Regions from separate parts of the Homo sapiens genome. Here region 2 is linked to region 1. Evidence: fine-mapped expression QTL. A gene starts in region 1. The other region holds a variant in brackets. All regions are shown on one strand. Distances are between the middles of the regions. Region 1 holds the start of UAP1 (UDP-N-acetylglucosamine pyrophosphorylase 1). Region 2 has its middle 22 kb from the start of UAP1-DT.

The links. PIP is the estimated chance that this variant, and not a neighbour inherited with it, causes the effect.
Region 2: its variant is the best candidate, but not a certain one, in a credible set for the expression of UAP1 in T cells (TOPMed, PIP 0.71).

What each region holds. Positions count from the first base shown.
Region 1 is chr1:162,559,296-162,564,795 of GRCh38, reverse strand. It overlaps UAP1 (UDP-N-acetylglucosamine pyrophosphorylase 1), which reads right to left and starts at 3,074. Exons shown (of 11, transcript NM_001324116.5): 1 at 3,019-3,074. UAP1-DT (UAP1 divergent transcript) reads left to right here and starts at 3,443. Exons shown (of 3, transcript XR_426859.4): 1 at 3,443-3,558; 2 at 4,144-4,321. RefSeq lists a silencer at 2,586-3,485.
Region 2 is chr1:162,536,555-162,541,819 of GRCh38, reverse strand. It overlaps the pseudogene UQCRBP2. Among named protein-coding and RNA genes, the nearest start is that of UAP1-DT, 22 kb to the left of the region's middle. The variant A/T (reference allele first, on the strand shown) is at 2,100.

The DNA.
Region 1 (5,500 bases):
ATATAAAATGGCCTGGGGTAGGGCTAGATCATGAAAAGCCTGAAAACTAACCAAAAGAATTTAGACTTCAGAGAATAAGTAATAGAAAGCGAACAGTAGATTCTCAAACAGGGCAGTGTTACCATGCTTTAAAGAGATGAGAGAAAGGAGCAATGGATACAATAGATTGTAAGGAGGGACAACTAGAAGCAGGAAAAGAAGTTAAAAGACAACTGCAGGTATGAAATACCAAAGGTCTGAACCAGATTAGTGGCAGAGAAAATGAGAGTGAAAGGAATAAATTTGAGGGTCACTGTAAAGAATCATCACTGCATTATAATTGCTTCGATGTGAGAGACAGAGGTTAAAAGTAGGTTCTAAAGACACTTATCTTCTCTTCCTATAAGAACAGTGAAAAGTAATACACATGGTAGTTCAGAGCACAATTCTAGGCTAAGCTGAGCCACTTAATTTCCCCATGCCTCGGTTACCTTATCTGTAAAATGAGATTAATAATAGTATCTACCTCACCAGGATCATTAAACATCAAACTCCATTTACAAGCTCAGGTCTAGAGAACCTACATCTGTGTGTTCCCTGAGGTGGTAATAACAACACTCAGCTTTCAATGTTCATTATGGTATTAAAAGGCATTCCTATTGATTTATATAGGTTTCAAGAGTCATGATGCTATTATTTTTTAATTTTAAAAAATCACATTAAAAAAGACACTTGAGAGGAACAGATTTATATTAAATTATTTTCCAAGGAATGTAGTCTTTCCCAAGACCTTATTTATGCTGCTGCTTTGCCTCTGATTTAAGGGAGTACATTGTAGTAGGAAGATCAGCAAGGAACCAGATAACCAAAGAATAGGAAGTCCCTGTTCTTGGTCCTTCTCTATCATTTGATTCTATGCAATCATTTTACCTCCCTGTGCATAGATTTCCTCATGAATATAAGACAACCAACCTTTCTCACATGCCTTCAAGATAGTCAAGAGTAAAGAGTGCTCTGTCTGATAAAAGGCATACACAAACATATTACTATAACATTTTAAGATATAAACCAAACTTTTCCTAAAAGATCATTAGATACTCCTCCACCTTCAGACACTTGGGAAAATGAATCCATGCAAATAAGATACCTCATAGGGCCGGGCGCGGTGGCTCACGCCTGTAATTCCAGTACTTTGGGAGGCCGAGGCGGGCGGATCATGAGGTCAAGAGATGGAGACCATTCTGGCCAACATGGTGAAACCCCATCTCCACTAAAAATACAAAAATTAGCTGGGCATGGTGGCACGCGCCTGTAGTCCCAGCTACTCAGGAGGCTGAGGCAGGAGAATCGCCTGAACCGGGGAGGCGGAGGTTGTAGTAAGCCGACATCACGCCACTGAACTCCAGCCTGGCGACAGAGTGAGACTCTCCGTCTCAAAAAATAAAAATAAAAAAAAAAAGGGTACCTCATAGGTTAAACTTTGATATCTGGGCGTAAACCACTGGTAACATGTGTTCATCTACATGTTGTATAATGTTCATAATGTAACGACCATACTTGAGTTTTGGACAAGCACAATTCATCTATTATATTTATTTGAGGCAGATATAAGCACCTTCATGCCACAAAAATAGTAGCATGTTTCCCATTAACGATGTTTAGAGGCACGTGTAATGGTAAGCAGCAATTAACAGAAGAGTTAAAAGATATGGATTTTTATTTTGACAACCGAAATCTGAAAAAGTTGAAAATCTGCTCGAGAAATTATGACAAAACTTGGTACATGCCCACAGCCTAATCCATCTGCATCAAAATATATGAAAAATTTGGTAATAATCTACCATTATCAAATATATTTTTATTAGAATTTAAATACCAGTATTAAAGAAATCCAGTATTTCTCCCTCCTTTTCTGGCTTCCCCCACCCAGCCCCTATCTCTGCTGGTATACGTATGCCCTCGAAATGAATAAGTAAACCTCTTAAAGCTTTTGAAAAACAGTATCAGAGTTGAGACATAACCACCAACTGAATCCTATAAATGCTTGGCAGCACAGCCTATGAAGTCTTTCTTTGCTCCAGCTAAGTGAGCCAACTGACTAACCGTGAAGGAATAGACAACTGCCTTGAGTTTCCGGCGAACTCTTGGATCCACACCCAGTGAATTTCACCTAAAAGTCCTTAAACTTTTGCAATACCAAATGACACACACATATGATCATAATCCTATTACCTGATTTCAGATTTCATAAACCATGTAGAAGTAAGTGTAGCACAGCGACAGGCCAAAGTTCAAGCAGCCATATGTTCAGCATACGTGTGCTCAGCCCTCCAATACCATCCTTCTGCTTGGCCAAGAGAGGGGAAACCCAGAAATTTCAATTCTCTCTCACTACCAGTATCATGGCAAACCAAACCAAAAAAAAGAAAGAAAAAAGTGGCAAGCAAACAGGTTTTGTCCCACTGTCCTGTCCTCCAAATGTATCCCCTGTCTTTGTCAGACCTCTCAAATCTTTTCCTCATATATTCAAGACACACCAACTCGCTTCCACCTGACAGTGCCAACGATCTCCTGTCCCACTACAGGCCCCCACACTTGGTATAACTGTCCACAAGGCCCTAGCCTGAGAGCCTCGAGGTCTCTACTGCCCACCCGGGAGAGGCCCCACTCCCAACCCCACACGCCTACACGACCCCCTCGGACTCAGACACTGGCCCAGACCTCCTCCCACAACGCCCCCAGTCCATCTGGGGCGCGCTCATTCCATCCCTGGCCCCGCCATCCACCCGGCTGCCCAGCCCACACACCCTCTCGCGGGGTGGCGGAGGATGGGGTGCGACTGCGGGGCGCACGGGCTGGGGTGTGTGTCTGCGGGCGAGCGGGAGGCTCCTCGGCGTGTGCTCGGCTGCCCGCGCTGTGCACGTTCGTGCGACGCGTGTCCACGTCTGAGCGCGTGGCCGTGTGTGCGGTGGGGCCAGGCCCTCCGCCCGCCCGGGTCCCGAGCCCCGCCGTCTCCTCGCTGGGCTGGGAGCCCCTCACCTTTCTCGGCGCGACCGCAGCTACGACCGTCTCCAGCTCCTTCCGCGCGGCCACTCATCGGCGTCCCGCGCTCGCTCCGAATATATACCCTCATCCGGGGGGCCGCGGCGGCGGGGCGGGCCGGGAGCGGGGGCCAAGTGGAGCGCCAGCCCCGGCCACCCCGCCCCTCTCGCCACGACTAGTGGCTGCCGACGCCTGAAGGAGTGGAAGCCGACCGCCCAGACACGTCAGCGCCGGGAGCACAGACGACGACGCGGACGCGGAGGCGGCCGCGGCCCGGGGCGCCGGGGCGGGGCTAGGGATGGGGGCCGGGCATGAAAGGAGTAACCCACCGGGCCGGGGCGGGGCCTAGTGCGTCACTCATTCTCTGGCCCAATGGGAATAGTTCTGGAGCGCAGTCGGCTGGCGTCCCGGTCCCTCCTGCGCACTAACTGAGGGTGAAGGATGTCGGTTGGGTCTGCTAGGAGGGGCCAGGAGCCGGCCGGCAGAGAGCGGCTCGTGGGTCCCAGGACCCCTGACGTCCCTAGGTTGTACTGGGAGGTGCGAGCCCGAGGCTCTTAGTCGGCCCAGCGGCACGGGGCACAAGCGGGCCACAGAGATGGGCAGGGAGCTGTGTCCCCAGGGTGGCGGATTTCCGAGCCACCCACGCGGGTGGTTGGGAAAGGGCGGTGGATTTTCCTGCGGAGAAACTTTCAGGGCGGGCCTGGCGCGCTCTCTGACCTTGGGCTAGTTATTTTGTGTGCAGTTCACAAGATGCCTGGCCGGGCTCCAAACTCGCTCTCTGTTTGGTTGTGTTTTGGCTCCCAAGAAGGCGAAGCCAGGCCTTTTTTCTTTTGCACAAACAGACAGGAAAGGAGAGAGGAAATGCAAGCAAAGGTAGTAGGTAACCTAAGGTAGTATAAGCCCGGGGTCATCTTTGTGAGTTTGCAGACTTAACGTCGCTAGGCCTCAGTACTCTGCAGAAAGATGGTGGAGGACCTAGATGACCTCCCAGGCCATTCCAGGACCAGTGTTTACAGTCCTGTTACATAACCTAGTGTGGGTGTGCACACACAGGTTATTATATGTTCAGCACTGTGCCCTTGGAAGCTATGTTTACATTTAAAGTTGTGTTGCATTTTGCAGCTTTTGCAAGAAGTGGAATATGTTGAAATACGAAAATACCTAGATTTAACATACCACCTATCATAAAGAGATTCAGGCGCCTTTCTTCTACTTTCTTGGGTGCAAAGGCCTTTTCATTCCCTTTACCAATTGCATAATCACCCACTGCCTCAAGTAACAACAGAAAAACTTAAACTTGGTAAGTAATGCTGGTAGATTTACATTCAGGAGATTGAATACTCTCCATCTCTCATGATCCTAGAACTTCCTTCGTTTCTTTGAAAGAAGAATAGTGTAGTGATTGGTTTATAGTGTAGTGATTGGTTTCTTAATCATGGGATCTGAAGACAATTTCAGCTTTATTGCTTGTGATCTTTGGCAAGCTACTTGTGCTATCAGTTTTCTCATCTATAAAAAACAGACAATAAAGATGAAAATGCCATTTGGTGGTTGTATTAAACCAATCGATATAAATGAAGTATGTAAAACAGTAAACACTAAATAACCTTTAGTTATTATTTATTATTGAGCACTTATTAATTCAAACTAGGAGACCCAGATTCAAAATCAGTCTACGCTTACTAACTGTGTGACTTTGGGTAAGTCATTTAACCACTCCAAACTCCAATGTCCTTTTATGAAATGAAGCTAATACCTATTTCACATGGGTATAGTAAAAAATGAGAAAGAACCTAAGATAATGTCTGGAATATTATAGGCATTCTATAAGTCATAGATGAATGACTGAGTAAAGAGCAAAATTATTAGTTAGCAATCCTTTAAAGAAAAAAGATAGAACTGAGGTCCAGCTCAATGTTTTTAATGAACTACTATAAAATCACATTTGTACTTTTACCCTTTTTTGCTGAAGTTTCATTTGTTTGTTATTCTGGTTACTAGGCATAAGAGGGGCCATAATCTCATCTTGCCAGCTAAATGTCCAGAAATGTCTAACACTAGAGTTATTTCTGTCCTTCGAAATACTTTTTATATACATGGTCTTTTAAGAGCTGATTGAAGAAAACAAGGCAACGATGTTCACACTACCTATGATTTTTTGACATTACACCAAAGGTATCAGCTAATGAAGTTAGACAACAGAAATCCTAAGAGGCTTATAAATTAGAAAAAATATATAAGAATTAAAAAATTATTTTTTAAGAATTTTAAAAAGTCATAAAACTACTTCGACTTGCAAATGACAAGAGAGAATACCTGGAAAGCCCTTGAGAGTCAACAATAAGACTAACAAACCACAGAAAAATTTTGGTTAGTGTATTAGTCCGTTTTCACACTGCTATCAAGAGATACCCAAGACTGGGTAATTTATAAAGAAAAGAGGTTTAATTGACTCACAGTTCTGCATGGCTGCAGAGGC
Region 2 (5,265 bases), 23 kb after region 1:
GAGAACTGAGGGAAGAGGGGAGTGTGTGGATGAGATTAATTGAACAGTCTGGACTCTGAAAATCCATTTGGTAGTTGCTCGTGACGCAATCCTTGGGGAAGTACCAGTCTAAGGTGCATGTAGATCCTGTACCAGGGTTCCAAACTATCTCAGGGTCAAAATGGCTGGCAGGCCGGCTGTTGCAGCATCAGTGGCTGGATGGTTTTTGGTAAGTGTATTATAATGCTGCAGGATTCCATAAACTGGGGTTAATGCCAGATGATACCATATATAAGGATGAAGAAGTAAGAGAAGCCATAAGAAGCCCTCCTGTGAACCTTTATAATAACAGGATGTTTCACATCGATTGCGCTGGACCTGACTATGAGGCAGCAGATCTCGCCTAAAGAACAGTGGACCAAATATGACAGGATAAATTCTACCTTGAACCGTATCTGAAAGCGGTTACTTGGGAGAGAAAAGAGAGAAAAGAATGGGCAAAGAAGTAATCATGCAGTTGAAATCTATGGATGCAGCTGTCCTCAAAGTATTTTTATGAAGATGTTGGTTAACGCCAAAACACAATTTAATAATTATTTAGGCCGGGCGCAGTGGCTCACACCTGTAATCCCAGCACTTTGGGAGGCCGAGGCGGGTGGATCACCTGAAGTCAAGAGTTCAAGATCAGCCTGGCCAACATAGCGAAACCCTATCTCTACTTTAAAAAATACAAAAATTAGTTGGGCGTGGTGGCGGGCACTTGTAATCCCAGCTACTCGGGAGACTGAGGTAGGAGAATCGCTTGAACCTGGGAGGCGAAAGTTGCAGTGAGCCGAGATCGCACCACTGCACTCCAGCCTGGGTGACAGAGTGAGACTCCGTCTCAGAAAAAAAAAAAAAAAGAAAAGAAAAGAAAAGTATTTAGTCTGCACGTTTTCCTTTAAATAAATACCTATAGTAAAAACAACAACAACAACAACAACAAACTGTCTCAAATGAATCCAATACGTACCCCAACTTTACCAAGTTGGTTGATGTTTGTTTTTATTTTTGGCATCCTGAGATCACTGTATTTTATTATCCAGATAAAATAATTCCAATTACGGCCGGGCGCGGTGGCTCACGCCTGTAATCCCAGCACTTTGGGAGGCCGAGGCGGGCGGATCACGAGGTCAGGAGATCGAGACCATCCTGGCTAACACAGTGAAACCCCGTCTCTACTAAAAATACAAAAAAAAAATTAGCCAGACGTGGTGGCGGGCGCCTGTAGTCCCAGCTACTCGCGAGGCTGAGGCAGGAGAATGGCGTGAACCCGAGAGGCGGAGCTTGCAGAGAGCCGAGATTGCGCCACTGCACTCCAGCCTGGACGACAGAGCAAGACTCCATCTCAAAAAAATAAAGTAATTCCAATTTCATGTCTTTGGATTCCCCACAAGCAGAAAATCAGGTAATCACTTGATTGTCTCTGTACCCAAGGAACAAAATCTTTAATATACGGAGCGGTTTGGCCCCTTCTTATTTCCACACACTAGTCTGTGAGTACTGTCTTTACATCACCCAAAGACCTGTTGAATTGCTTCCCCAAACAAAAGATGAATTCTCTCTGGAGCTATAAAATGCACCTTGTAAAACTGTAGTATTTTTGCAATTTGCGACTACCACCCAGAAACCATTTTAAAATGACAAAGATTTTCTGCTTTTTTTTTTTTTTTTTTTTTTTGAGACAGAGTTTCACTCTTGTTGCCCAGGCTGGAGTGCAATGGCGCAATCTCGGCTCACTGCATCCTCTGCCTCCCCGGTTCAAGTGATTCTCCTGCCTCAGCCTCCCAAGTAGCTGGGATTACCAGCATGCACCACCATGCCCAGCTAATTTTGTATTTTTAGTAGAGACGGGGTTTCTCCATGTTGGTCAGGCTGGTCTCGAACTCTCAACCTCAGGTGATCCGCCCACCTCGGCCCCCCAAAGTGGTGGGATTACAGGTGTTAGCCACTGCCACTGGTGTTTTCTGGTTTCTTATTCACAGTTTATAGTCAGGATCTTAATGATCTCATGTAGAATATTTCTCTTTAAAATTTGGTACAGTTTATTATGAACAATGTCTTTGTATGAGAAAAATATA[A/T]TAATCATATGTAATACAAATTCTGTAGGCAAGAAAGAAAAGTATGTTATCCCGCAGGCTCAGGCTGGACATTTTTTTTTTTTTTTTTTTTTTTTGAGATGGAATCGGGCTCTGTCACCCAGACTGGAGATCAGTGCCGAAATCTATGTTCACTGCAACCTCCACCTCCCGGGTTCAAGCGATTCTCCTGCCTCAGCCTCCCGAGTAGCTGGGATTACAGGCACCTGCCACAACGCCCAGCTAATTTTTGTATTTTTAGTAGAGACAGAGTTTCCTCATGTTGCCCAGGCTGGTCTTGAACTCCTGACCTCAAAGGATCCACTTGTCTCAGCCTCCCAAAGTGCTGGGATTGCAGGCATGAGTCACCACCCCTGGTTCAGGCTTGGCTTTTAATTCTGCTGCTCACCCAGTGTGGTCAGGCAAACCTGCCCTCTCCTGTACGTGAGCTTTGAGCATTTGTTGGGCTGTTCTAACAGAGATCATAGTTGCCATACTTACCTTCATTGAGAACTGTATTTTTCCATAAAGAGGGTGCTGCTTCAAGTTAGGAAGGAACTTCAGAAGGGCTTAATATGAAGTGATGCAAGAATAAGAAAAGGCCTCTCAATTCAGGCAACTGAAAGTTTGAGAATCAGAGTCATTCAATTCATATGCTCTGAGATCAGTCATTATTAGCCTGTATGTGTGGTTTTTGTTTTCCTGTACAACCTAGAAAATTAGTCTTTGGTCATGTTCCTGGAATTCAAAGAAATATCATGAGCAATGAGTTAAGTATGTATTTTATCTAAGAAATGTAGTCTACCTATTATATGGGGCATGTGTATGTGAGGCACATACACAAAATTATTCAGCTTTGTTGAAGCCAGTAGTGAAAAGCATAATTAAAGAGAGATTTAAGTCTTGAAATTCTGGTGACACAGGGGATAGGCTGCTTGAATTCGGCCACAAAACCTTATTTCTGACATATTAAACAAACAGATTAAGAAACAATTGGCCCATATAAGCCCACGTCTATGTTAACAGTAAAATATTCCTTATGAATTAATTAGTCAACTTACTGAGTTTTGCATCCGAGTAAGAATCCCCTTTTACCTATTCATACAGCTATAAACTACAAGCGAAATTAAGATCTTGTTATCTGTGGAAGGAAAAGATATTGTTAAAATCTCAGACAAAAATCCACCCCCCCATTTTCATTTAAATATGAAAGCAAAGTTGTATTAAGGAGGTTAAAAATTATATATAATAATATTTATATGAAATAAAAATATTGATGGTGGCAGTATTATTTTTCCTCCACAATATCAAAGGGTAGAGAATATAGTCTATATTTAATTATTCCTTGACAAGCTTAATAACCTAATTTTTTTTTTTTTGAGACAAAGTGTCACTCTGTCACCCAGGCTGGAGTACAGTGGCACGATCTCAGCTTCCTGCAACCTCTGCCTCCTGGGTTCAAACAATTCTCCTGCCTCAGCTTCCCGAGTAGCTGGGATTACAAGTGTGCACCACCAAGCCCAGCTGATTTTTTGTATTTTTAGTAGAGATGGGGTTTCACCATGTTGCCCAGACTGCTCTCAAACTCCTGACCTCAAGTGATCCACCCACCTCGGCCTCCAAAGTGCAGGCATTACAGATGTAAGCCACCGTGCCTGACCACCTAATGAAAAAAATAATAATGGTAATAATAGAAAAAAAGCAAAAAGCATTCATAACTATGTTTCTGGATCCACTGTAGATGACATATTTTTCCACAGTTGCAAGTAAAAATGAGTTTTCCAAAATGTAAAATTGTTAGAAACAAAAAGTATGGGCATGCTAAAAAAAAAAATCCTGCTATGAGGGAGGTTCCTTACATCAAAAATGGTCAGGATGAGTTAGGCACTAACACCAAATGATGAGAAAAATGGACATAACATTGAAGGGAAGATGTTTTGAAATGCTCAACTTGCAGCCCAACATAAGAAGAGAAATTTGGATGACGATGAGAACAAAAGGGAGGGAAAGACACCTCACAGGTGTTTCATGTGAATAAGCTCATTTAGTCTTCACAGCAATTTTATAATGTAAATATGATTATTATCTCTATGTTACAAAAGAGGAAACCAAGTCTTATAAAGTTTAAGCAGCTTACTAAGGTCATATCGTTACTGTGTGAGGAAGTCTCTCCAACTTGGAGAGTGCAAGGGAGAGTCATATAAGTCCCTGGAACACTCCAACTTGCCTTTCTATTTTCATTTCCAAGCTGCCTCCTTTGCCTGGTCCTGAAATCTCTAATTCTCTCTCTCCCTCTCTCTCTCTCTCTCTCTCTCTTTCTCTCTCTCTCTCTCTCACACACACAAATTTGGCATCTCACCTCTTTTACCCTAATTAAACTTGGCCTTTGTCAGCAGGCAACTGGTTCTGATGCTCTGTCAATGAAGATAATGGAGAAATATGGTGTTTTTTTTTTTTTTGGAGTCGGAGTCTTGCTCTGTCACTAGGCTGGAGTGCAGTAACAGTCTCGGCTCACTGCAACCTCCGCCTCCTGGGTTCAAGCGATTCTTCTGCCTCAGCCTCCCGAGTAGCTGGGATTACAGGTGCGCACCCACCACGCCCAGCTAATTTTTGTATTTTTAGTAGAGATGGGGTTTCACCAGGTTGGCCAGGTTGGTCTTGAACTGCTGACCTCGTGATCCACCTGCCTCAGCCTCCCAAAGTGCTGGCATTACAGGTGTGAGCCACCGCACCTGGCCGAAATATGGCATTAAAATGGAACCTTCTGTTCCTTAACCCCAGACTCTCTATATCCACTTGTGATACAAACCAATGTAGCAACATAACCAGCCCTTGCCATATCTTCCCTACTGCTTAAGGGTTAGCCAATTAGCTGATTTCCCTTGCCTGTTTCTTTGGGAACAAAGAAAACAATTGTGTCATGTACATGAACAGACACATGAACAAGTAGGTGGAAGCCATTTTGAATGGTAGAATTTCAGTTTGCCAAAACCATAAAAGTGACTCACAACACCACTTTCAGGCAGCCTAGTTCAGGGGCCATAGCTGCATATGTTATTTATCATCAGACCCAACCTCCAAATTCTCTTTCTTGGCTATAATGCAAAGTCAGATGCTTAGGCCTTTGATGAATGTGCAGCAATAATAAGAAGGGAGTGCTGGCCGGGTG